Linked DNA regions of Homo sapiens: all the other regions are reported to be linked to region 3. Evidence: microRNA targets listed by miRTarBase, many of them from high-throughput screens and not tested one by one. Region 3 holds a microRNA gene; each other region holds the end of a gene's coding sequence.

Evidence for each region. The annotated mature microRNA hsa-miR-1249-5p reads AGGAGGGAGGAGAUGGGCCAAGUU and lies in region 3 at 1,104-1,127, opposite strand. An mRNA with a match to its seed (bases 2 to 7 or 8) in the 3' UTR can be bound and repressed. Matches are read on the target gene's strand: a 7mer-m8 pairs with bases 2 to 8, a 7mer-A1 pairs with bases 2 to 7 and ends in A, and an 8mer does both.
Region 1: miRTarBase lists EDA2R as a target of hsa-miR-1249-5p. Seed matches in the 3' UTR shown: 7mer-m8 at 2,252-2,258.
Region 2: miRTarBase lists IER5 as a target of hsa-miR-1249-5p. Seed matches in the 3' UTR shown: 7mer-m8 at 884-890.

What each region holds. Positions count from the first base shown.
Region 1 is chrX:66,596,680-66,599,929 of GRCh38, reverse strand. EDA2R (ectodysplasin A2 receptor) reads left to right here. Exons shown (of 7, transcript NM_021783.5): 6 at 70-456; 7 at 1,837-3,250. The coding sequence ends at 446. Among named protein-coding and RNA genes, the nearest start is that of EDA2R, 41 kb to the left of the region's middle.
Region 2 is chr1:181,089,541-181,092,790 of GRCh38, forward strand. IER5 (immediate early response 5) reads left to right here. Exons shown (of 1, transcript NM_016545.5): 1 at 1-3,250. The coding sequence ends at 346. Among named protein-coding and RNA genes, the nearest start is that of IER5, 2.5 kb to the left of the region's middle. RefSeq lists silencers at 1-98, 673-967 and an enhancer at 489-658.
Region 3 is chr22:45,199,890-45,203,139 of GRCh38, forward strand. MIR1249 (microRNA 1249) reads right to left here and starts at 1,130; the gene lies at 1,065-1,130. It overlaps KIAA0930, which reads right to left. Exons shown (of 10, transcript NM_001009880.2): 7 at 3,101-3,250; 8 at 1-146. RefSeq lists an enhancer at 2,438-2,582 and a cis regulatory region at 2,510.

The DNA.
Region 1 (3,250 bases), not on the chromosome of region 3:
TACCCAGTGCCCAGCTGAGAAGAGCCCCTGCTTTTGGGTAACCCAGTGGCTTTCTGCTTCGAGTTGCAGGAGGTTTGCTGCAGTTTGAGGCTGATAAAACAGCAAAGGAGGAATCTCTCTTCCCCGTGCCACCCAGCAAGGAGACCAGTGCTGAGTCCCAAGTGAGTGAGAACATCTTTCAGACCCAGCCACTTAACCCTATCCTCGAGGACGACTGCAGCTCGACTAGTGGCTTCCCCACACAGGAGTCCTTTACCATGGCCTCCTGCACCTCAGAGAGCCACTCCCACTGGGTCCACAGCCCCATCGAATGCACAGAGCTGGACCTGCAAAAGTTTTCCAGCTCTGCCTCCTATACTGGAGCTGAGACCTTGGGGGGAAACACAGTCGAAAGCACTGGAGACAGGCTGGAGCTCAATGTGCCCTTTGAAGTTCCCAGCCCTTAACTCTAATGAGGTGAGCTGGAAAGGTGGATCAGAAAAAAACAAAAAAAGCAAAACAGAAATTAAGGACTAACCTCAAGGAATTCTCTTTTGGAATAGTATTATTCACTAGGAGTGGAGGAACAGCAGCAAGCTAGGAACACTTTGGGTGGAGGGGCAACAGTGGTGATGCTAAACTTTTAAGCCAGACAGATATCACACTTCTGGGTCTACAATTGTCAGGGAACTGGCAAGGTTGTCATGATACCAGTCTCTCCATTCTGGTCTTTCGTAAGCTCTCTCAGGGCCCCACTATCTAATGGTCATATTCAGGTATCTCCCTTTATGTGTGCAAGCAGCATAGCACAGTAGAAAAAGATATACAAGCCTTGTCATCTGGAAACCCTACATTTCAAATCAACCTTCATTCCCTAATAACTATACAAACCTTGTGTGTATGTCACTTCATTTTACATTTTACAGAGGCAGGAACTGAGACACAGAGAGGGAAAGTTAGTTTCTCAAAGTCACAGGGCAAATTAGTGGGCTAGAACTGTGCAAGAACCCAGGTTTGGGGGCTACATTTTAGAGTTGGTTCAACTCCACCATTGCAACCATTTGATAGCCAATGTTACTTTCTCAAAGCTTATGTAGCATGAGGTAGGAGAGTAGGTAGATTCCCAGTTTTCAACTAACCAAATATCTTGCAGTGCCCACTTCCGTATTTCTTCAGTTAATACATTTTCAGTTCTCCCAATGACTTCCCTGCTCCCTGCATCCAACCTAAGAAAACGTGAACAAATGTATATTTGAAAGTCATAACTGATATCAAATTTGAAAGTTATAACTGATGTCAAATCAATCAACTTAGGTACCTTCAAGGTTATCTAGTCCAGTTCTTCTTCCAAGGTTTGGGTCCATTTTATAATATCCCCACTAAGAGTTTGTGTAGTCCTTGCTCACATACTTTAGGTGGCAGAGGGCTGACTACTTCTCAATGTATATTACAGTATACACAATTGTGACTGGTGGGTTTGAGCTCAATGTAAGAAAGAGCTTTCCCTGTAGTACCCGCCTATCCATCCTGGCTCTGTTCCTCGTGCCAGACAGACCTCATCAGTTTCCTCTGCTTTAAGATAGCCCTGCAGAGGCTTGAAGACAACACCACCTCTCTGGAGAATACCACTTTAGGTTCTTCTAAAGTATGTGGAGCTTAGAACTAAACCTATCTTCAGGATAAATGGTTTCAACAATGTAGAATAGGGTAGAATTGTCATATCCCTATCTAGGTAATGTCTTTCTGCTATTACATCCTCAACCATTGGCTTAACCTATGATATTTGGAGGGGTAGAGAAAGAAGGGTGCTAGTGAGATTTCCCCACATGTTTCTAACTTGGTTTGCTCTCTCCTTAGGTCTCTTGGGCCCCTGGCAGCCTTGCCCAGTTGTTCTCTCTGGACTCTGTTCCTATACCACAACAGCAGCAGGGGCCTGAAATGTGATGTCCACAAGAGCTAATACCCTACAGATGGGGCATATCCTATCCCATCCCACCAGAGGATTGATTCTCCATTTCACAAGGACTGATCTGGAGCATTTCTTGCTTCCCTTTTGTAGTCTGGGGAGCCAGATTCCACATTCATGGGACTACCAGACATGTTCCTAGCTCAACTTGATTATAGAGAAGAGGAGAGAGGACAGTGAATGGGGTAGGGTTTTCATGTCTGCATTTTTGGTCAGGTAAGCCTCTCAAAATTGTGTTGGCACATCTACCTAGCACTTTAGGGACAAAATCAAACCCTTCTCCCCTTTTAGCTCCTCCACACTGTCTCCCTCCTCAACACACACACACACACATACACACACATATACATAGACACACAAACACACACACACACATTAATATCTATCTTGGGGGAGGCCTCGTGCCATAATTCCCAAGTTCATGTCTCAGACTGCTGCATTGCAGCATGAGGCAGGGCAAACACTTTCCCTCTAGATCCCTGGGGCCTCACCCTGTATTTGAGGTTCTCACCACCCTCAGCAGGGAGAAGGGCTGAAGTTCGCCATTTTGGAACCTTACAGAACATTTCTGAGCCAAAGTAATCTTCCTTCTGGGGCCTGAGTTCCCCAAACTACCCCACAGCAGTCCCTCAAAGACAGCCCTCAATCCATGTAGGGACATCTGAGTATGCCTCTTTCTATTGAAATGTCAATTCAATCCCAGCTTTCTCACCACCGTTCCCCTTTGATTCTTTCTCAATTGTCTTTTTGCCTTTAGCTCCCACCTATACATCTCATGCTCAGAGAAAAACAAGTTCCTTAGAGGTTGTATTCTTTATTCTCCAAGAATCTGTCTGAAACTTGTACAGCTAGTTCCTGTCCCACAACTATTAAGTGGTTTATTAAGTACATTAGGCAGAATGTGCACTTCATCACCAGGTTCTAGCTCTGGCAAAGGAGTGCTGTCTACAGCAAGATTTTTGCTTTTAGAATTTTATTAACTACATCTTTTGGGTTCATCCATCTACAAACACTGATTAAGGGCCCCTGGGGCAACCAATTGATCAGATTACTAAAAGGACTTGGGAAAAAGCAAAAAGGTCCCATTGTACTGGACTGAGGATTAGAAGCAATTGAAATACAAGCCTGTACCAAGCAAGCAGCCTGGCCCCACACAGGTATTAGCAAATATGTGGTAACCAAGGTTTTAGGCCTTGGCCTTTAGGTTTCCTGTTTTTTTTTTGTTTTTGTTTTTGTTTTTGTTTTTCTGCAACAGGTTATTCTTATCTCACTGGCTTTCACTGATCATGTTTAGACCTTCTGGTA
Region 2 (3,250 bases), not on the chromosome of region 3:
GGTGTGCCCCAGGAAGCGCTGCGCGGCGGGGGTGGGCGGCGGCCCAGCGGGCTGCCCGGCGCCCGGCTCGACCCCGCTCAAGAAGCCCCGCCGGAACTTAGAGCAGCCGCCGAGTGGAGGAGAGGACGACGACGCGGAGGAGATGGAGACCGGGAACGTGGCTAACCTCATCAGCATCTTCGGTTCCAGTTTCTCGGGACTCCTACGGAAAAGCCCCGGGGGCGGCAGAGAGGAAGAGGAGGGAGAGGAGAGCGGTCCGGAAGCCGCCGAGCCCGGGCAGATCTGCTGCGATAAGCCGGTGCTGAGAGACATGAACCCCTGGAGCACAGCCATCGTGGCCTTCTGAGCCCTTGGCCCCCCTGCGGGGAGGAGGTGGAGCAGCGGGCGTCCCCGAAGTGAGGGCCAGGCCCTTCCCGGCTGCGAGGACGCCCAGAGACCGCGGGCGCTGAGCGCGTTGGGCAGACTGGTTGCCTCTGGGCATCGCAAACTGCCCCCGGGCGCATCTGGCTTATCTGGAGACCTGGGAGCTTGAGGCTCATTGGAAGAGGACGATCGTTAACTTTTGTGTTTGTGTATGTCTGTGTATGTAAGTTTGTCTTGTGGCATTAAGACTATTTTGCTCTTCTGGAATGCACCACTCCTTCCCCAGGGTTTAAGAGATTGGGGGCAGACAGGGACTTTCCTCTGCCGGCTGCGTGGAGAAGGAAGCGGCTAAAAGGTTTGGGCCGGGGAGTTCCCCATTCGTTCTCCGGGGAGGGAGGGACTTTACACCTACCCCTCACCGGAAAGCTAGACCCGCTTCAGGGCCAGGAGTGGCGTTTCCGCACAGGATTTCCTAAGACGAGAGGGATTTAGCCAAGAGCACAGACTTGGATTCCTTCTGTCCCTCCCCACCTTTCTCTCCCAATGAAGAAACGTTTATATCCTGTGATTACTCTAGGAAAGGGGCGTATTAACGGTCCTTTGCTTCCCCGCAGGGGAGAAAAAGCTTGACGAACTTCACAGAAGAGTTCAAGCTTGGAAATAATGGAGTTTATAGAGAAAAGATATATTTTTAAAAGCTCTAGGTCAGAAGTACTACACAGTGCTTTTAAAAAGTGTTTAATGAGAGTTTACAGACAGAAGCCCGAAGTGGAAAGACCTTATGGTTTTGTAGATATGGTGACTCCAGTCTTTGTTGTATAAAGGTTGGGGGAGCTGATAAGGTTTTTGTACAGTATTTTCTCCTTCGTTGTATTGATTTTTGTATAAAAATGTAACTTCTACGTGTCTAACACGTATTAAATATTTTGAAGCAACGTAACTGCCTGCTTGTCTGTAATAACCTGCCTGGGTTGGGAGGGAAGTGGGAGGAGGGAAACCAGGGCCTGAGCTAGAAAATTGAAGGTGTGGTTCTTAGTATCAGTCATTCGCAGACTGAGGACATTGTTTACTGACTCCACTAAGTATCAAGAGAGACACGTTTAATTTTTCCTCCTAGATCAGAGGACTGCTATTAGATACTAATATCGGCGACCTGTCAGGTTCTAGAAACCTGCCACTACAACTGCCTTTTCTAAGGTCAGTTTAGACCAATTTGTCACCCAATATGTGGGTGTCTAATACTAAGTAATTTAACCAACTTTTGAAGCCCCGCTTATCCACAAAAATGTTTTTCAGCAAAACTTTGTTTCCTGTTAAGCTATTAATACGGGTCATCTTTTAGCTTTGTAATTGAAAAAAAAAAAGTTTAGATAGTAGTTTACCTTAAAAGCCCATTCGAACTGACATAGGAAGATGAAAGAGACTGACTTGTCCAAATTGTCAGGTCCACCTCTGCATCACAGTGGATGTCAGGATGTAAATTTTCAGTTTTTCTCTTACATCTAGAAAGTAAATATATTGCTGAGAGGGAAATTGTTTGCATCAAACCAGATAAGGAAGGAGGGCTAGGCAAATTTAGTTCTCATTTAGCAAAACTTCCTGATTTGTTTTGTTACTTAAATGGTGACATCAGTGTTTGGTCATGGTAGACACTTAGGTGATGATAGCCAAAACATCCATCGATTTTACTAAAATCACTGCCATTAAGAGAGTTTTTTGTCTCTTCATGTTCAATGTTTGAAAGGTATTCAGTAATCTATTTCAGAAGCAAATCAATTAGGGAATGGTGTTTATTAAAATACGGTACAGTTGCCAGGACTTTAAAAGATGGTACTGGTTTCTAACAACTTACGAGTATATAGGGTATTTAAAAGATGGGAGAGATTGAAGAAAGACAAAGGTTTAAAGGTCATAGCCTTCGAGCATAAGAGGCATATGAATGGTGTCTTGGCCTTAACTCCCAATTATACGAACTTCTGTTTTAGCTGAATAGGCCAGTGCCTCGTGCCTTGATATTTCGGCAAATCTATTAGTGGTTCCTTAAGCATAGGGAACTTTGTACTTTATGCTCTGTCGCCATAATAATGTATTTATAGAATTAAACATTCTCAAATTAGGGTCTTGTTAAACTGACTTTTTCTTTCAGAAAGTAGCTACTTAAATTCTGTTACAGCTACAAAAGATCCATCAAGTGCTGACTGCTTAAACTGAAGAAGGTGTCCAGGGCCTTAATTCTGCAAACATTTCCTGTTGTTAGAAAGTATGATGCTTGAACAGCGATCTCAGTGTATTTTATGTTTTAAAGGGGGTAACGTTTGGTGTGTTTAAGAGAGCTGATGTGTTTTGGATGAGACTAAAGTTGATCCTTGGTTTTACATTAAGATGAACCTGGGTCCATGTGTCTGCTTAAAGAATGTAAATTGGCATACTTGATAGGAGGATAAAGCTTTGTAGGAATTAGAAAAGATCATTCTCTTTTTTGTTGCAGAAGCAGTATAGTATAGTAGTTAGAGCATGGGCCCTGGAGCCAGGCTGCTTGGTGTCTTCCTTTATTTATTTATTTATTTAATTATAAAAAGTAAATATAAAGTGAGCTATGTTGACCAGGTTCGTCTTGAACTCCTGGCCTCAAGCAATCCTCCTGCCTCAGCCTCCCAAAGTGCTGGGATTACAGGCATGAGCCACCACAACCTGGCCTGCTTGGGTTTTTCTATCTTGGCTCTGCCACCTAGCTGTGGGTCCTTGGACAAGTTACTTCATCTCTCTGTGCCTCAGGTTTTTCAAATGTAAAATTGGGATAATTGGATCTGTCTCATAGGGTTGTGAAAATTAATGAGTTAATGCTCTTAGAAGAGTACCTCATATGTAATAAGCACGCAACTGTTAA
Region 3 (3,250 bases):
CGGAAGAACTCCTCGCTGTCGTTGGCCGAGTGCGACTTCTTCATCTCAGCGATCCGGTTCCGGGGCACCTTCCTCTTGAGGGATGGGGAGAAGAAGGCAGGCCGGTTGTTCCGTTCTGGGGTGGGGGGTGTGCTGAAGGAGGTCACCTGGGAACAAGCAGCCAAAGTCACCAGAGTAGCAGAACAGCCCCCTCCCCGGGGGTCCCAACGCCCCTCCTATCCCACCCTCAAACAACCTGACACAGCTCCCAGGGAAGAGGCCGCTGGCCCAGGAGGACCCAGGCCCAGCCGGCCCGTGCTAGGTGGGGCCTAGAGACTGGAAGATGCGTTCCAGCCCAGGGGCCAGCAGGACACCTGGCCACCAGTGCTACCCGAGGAGGGGCCAGGCTGCTGCCGCAAATGGCAGAAAGACCCCCCTCCTCTGGGCCTCAAACAGTGGGTAGGGGGTGTTCAAGCACAAAGTAACAACAGCTGCTGACGCTGAGTGAGCACTGGCCCCACACACAGACCCTCTGAGCCTCCAGCTCCGTGAGACAGGGGCTAGCGTCAGCCCATCTGACACATGGGGAAACTAAGGCAGGGACCGAGACCCTGGCTTGCCTGTGGTCACCAAGCAGGACGGCAGCAGCCCTGTCTTCTGTCCCCCAGGGCCACGCTCCTCATCCTACTTCTCAGGGCTGACGTGGCCCCATCCCTCTCATTCCCAGCACCCTTCACAGGAAATACTGTGCTAAGTAGCTCTATGCCTCTGTCTTCTCCCCACTTCTAATCACGTTTGGTTCTGTTCACCAAACATTCACACCCACTCAGGGCCAGGCAGGCACAGCACTAAGGACAGACAGGCACATTGCAGGTCCCTGCCCTCAAGGAGCTCACAGTCTGCTGGGGTGACAGACTCAGAGAGTGACAACCATAGACAGCATGCTGGCTGTGGAGACAGAGAAAGAGAAGCACAGGATACATGAAGCACAGAGGCAAAAGGGATCCACAGCCTGGGAAATCAGGGAAGGCTTCCTGGAGGAGATGCCGCTGGAGCTGGGTCTTGAAGGACGAGTAGGAGTTCGCCAGGTGAAGAAGGGGGGGAAGGGCGTTCCAGCCAGAGGGAACTTGGCCCATCTCCTCCCTCCTCCCCATGCCAACAATAATCTGAGGAGCAGGATGAGCTGGGACTGAGACTTCGGGAGCCCCGTCAGCCTCCTCGTCACGGCTCCGACATCCACCAAAGTCCTGGCAGCTGCTGGGCTCCAGACGGTGTTCCCACAAGCCGGGGAAGGTTTTTAAAAGATAAAAGAAACAAACAGCAGCAACCACAATACACAGAGTCAGCATGTGTCACGCACTGGCTCCAGACGACCCCGCCAGAGAAGGAGACAGGTAATAGCAGGCGCACAGGCGGCAGTCCCCAGGGGCCAGCCCTGCTGCTGACCCTGTGTGACCCTAGCACATCCCTCCTCCTGAATCCCAGGGCTGCCCAGCTGCTAAGGCACCAGGGACTTTCACACCCCTCACAGCCACTCCCGCTGGACAGATGGGAAAACCAAGGCTCAGGCAGGTCTAGTGACCTGTAGTCACTCAGCCCTCAGGCTGTGGCTGGAGGTGGCACCCGGGTTTGTCCAGCCCAGAGCTCGGGCCACATCTTCGTAAGGACTTTCACACACACATTTTGTCAGAGTCCCAGGGCATAATTTAGGACCAGGGAGAAGAACCAGGCCCTTTATCTCGGAAACAAACTCAGAAATATAAACCACCTCATTCCAAAGACAAGAGAGGCCCCTGCCTGGAATTCTCACCCATCTTTGCAAAAAATAGCACTTGCTGTCTTTGGCTTGCAAAACACATTCATTGCAGAAGATACCTCCCCCCCAAAAAAAGATATACAGAAGAGAAAGAAAACCAACATCTGACCACCCGGAGATATGCATGATTCAGATCTTTCTCGAACTAAAAGTATAACAAACGCACACTCCCTCATCTCAGGCATGCCTGCGGTAATGCATCGTTTACATTCCCACGCCTCTGCTTTCCAAGTAGGTCAACAGCAACTACTGCAGCTGCCACCTGGGAATCCTCCTGAGGGCCAAGCCCCGGATTCCTCAAAGCCTCCCAAATACTGAAGGAGCAGGTATCCTCGTGCCCTGTTTCTAGATGAGAAAACTGAGGCTTGGAGAGGAAAAGAGACACACCCAAGGTTATGAGAGCAGCAGAGCAGGATTCTGGCTGTGGGTGGCGTCTCTCCTGGACAATGGCTGGGCAAGACTGCCCCTGGACCTGTGCCAAGGGCACCCCCCTGCCCAGCACACCTGTACTCTTCCAAGAACTACAGCTCTGGGCAGTCCCTCTGGAAGAACCAGGTAGAGCAAAGCAGCCAGTGGGCTGGAGACCTTCTCCTGCCTGTGCCCCACCAAAGGCTTCTGGGAACAAAGCTGCTGCTGACCTCAGCCTCCCGCCCTGGGGAAGGAGAGTGGCCTAGGCAGAGCAGGGCCCCAAGCCCAGTGCTATCCCAAGAGACCTTGTGACCTGGGGCAAGCTGGCAAGTCTGGTTTCCGGCTGTGCGAGGCAGGAACGCCTCTCCTGCAGCAGAACCTCCTACAAACCGCGGGGCAAAGAGCTGGGTGGCCTAGGCCTCTGCATGCGCTGGCTGACCCTCAGTCACCATCATCCCCATCTGACTCACCGGGGAAGGCCGGCCACGTGCCCACGCTCACCCAGCAGGTCCACCCAGGCAGGCGCCAGGGCCGGGCCTGGGTCCCCAGCCAGTCTCTTCTGCCCACTGGCTCTGTGGACTCAGCCTGGCTTTGTGGCATCTCAGGGAGGCAGAAAGAGCTCTGGCCCAGCACCAGCCTGCGGTGTGACCTTGGCCAGGCACAGCCCTCCAGGTCTGCAAGGCAGGAACGCCTCCCCTGCGGCAGTGCCTCCTACAAACCGCTAGGCAAAGAGAAGGGCTGGGTGGTCCGGGCCTCCGCACGCTCGGCACCTCGGCCTGCGCACTGGTGGTTGGGGATGACAACACCTATGTCCCCAGGGGGCCGTGAGCACGGGGGAGACGGTGGAAAGTGAACTTGACGGATGGGAGCCCCCGCCCCCAGCTGTGCAGCCCTTACCCGCTCGTGCATGGGCGAAGCTGGGCTGGAGTCCTCTTCAGTCCCACAGGGGGATGTGTCACCTGTAGACACTCGGCTGACCGCCATCTCGGCGTGGCCCTTGCCCTGGGGGCCCTTCATGCGCACAAACTCCATGTTGCTGTACTTGTA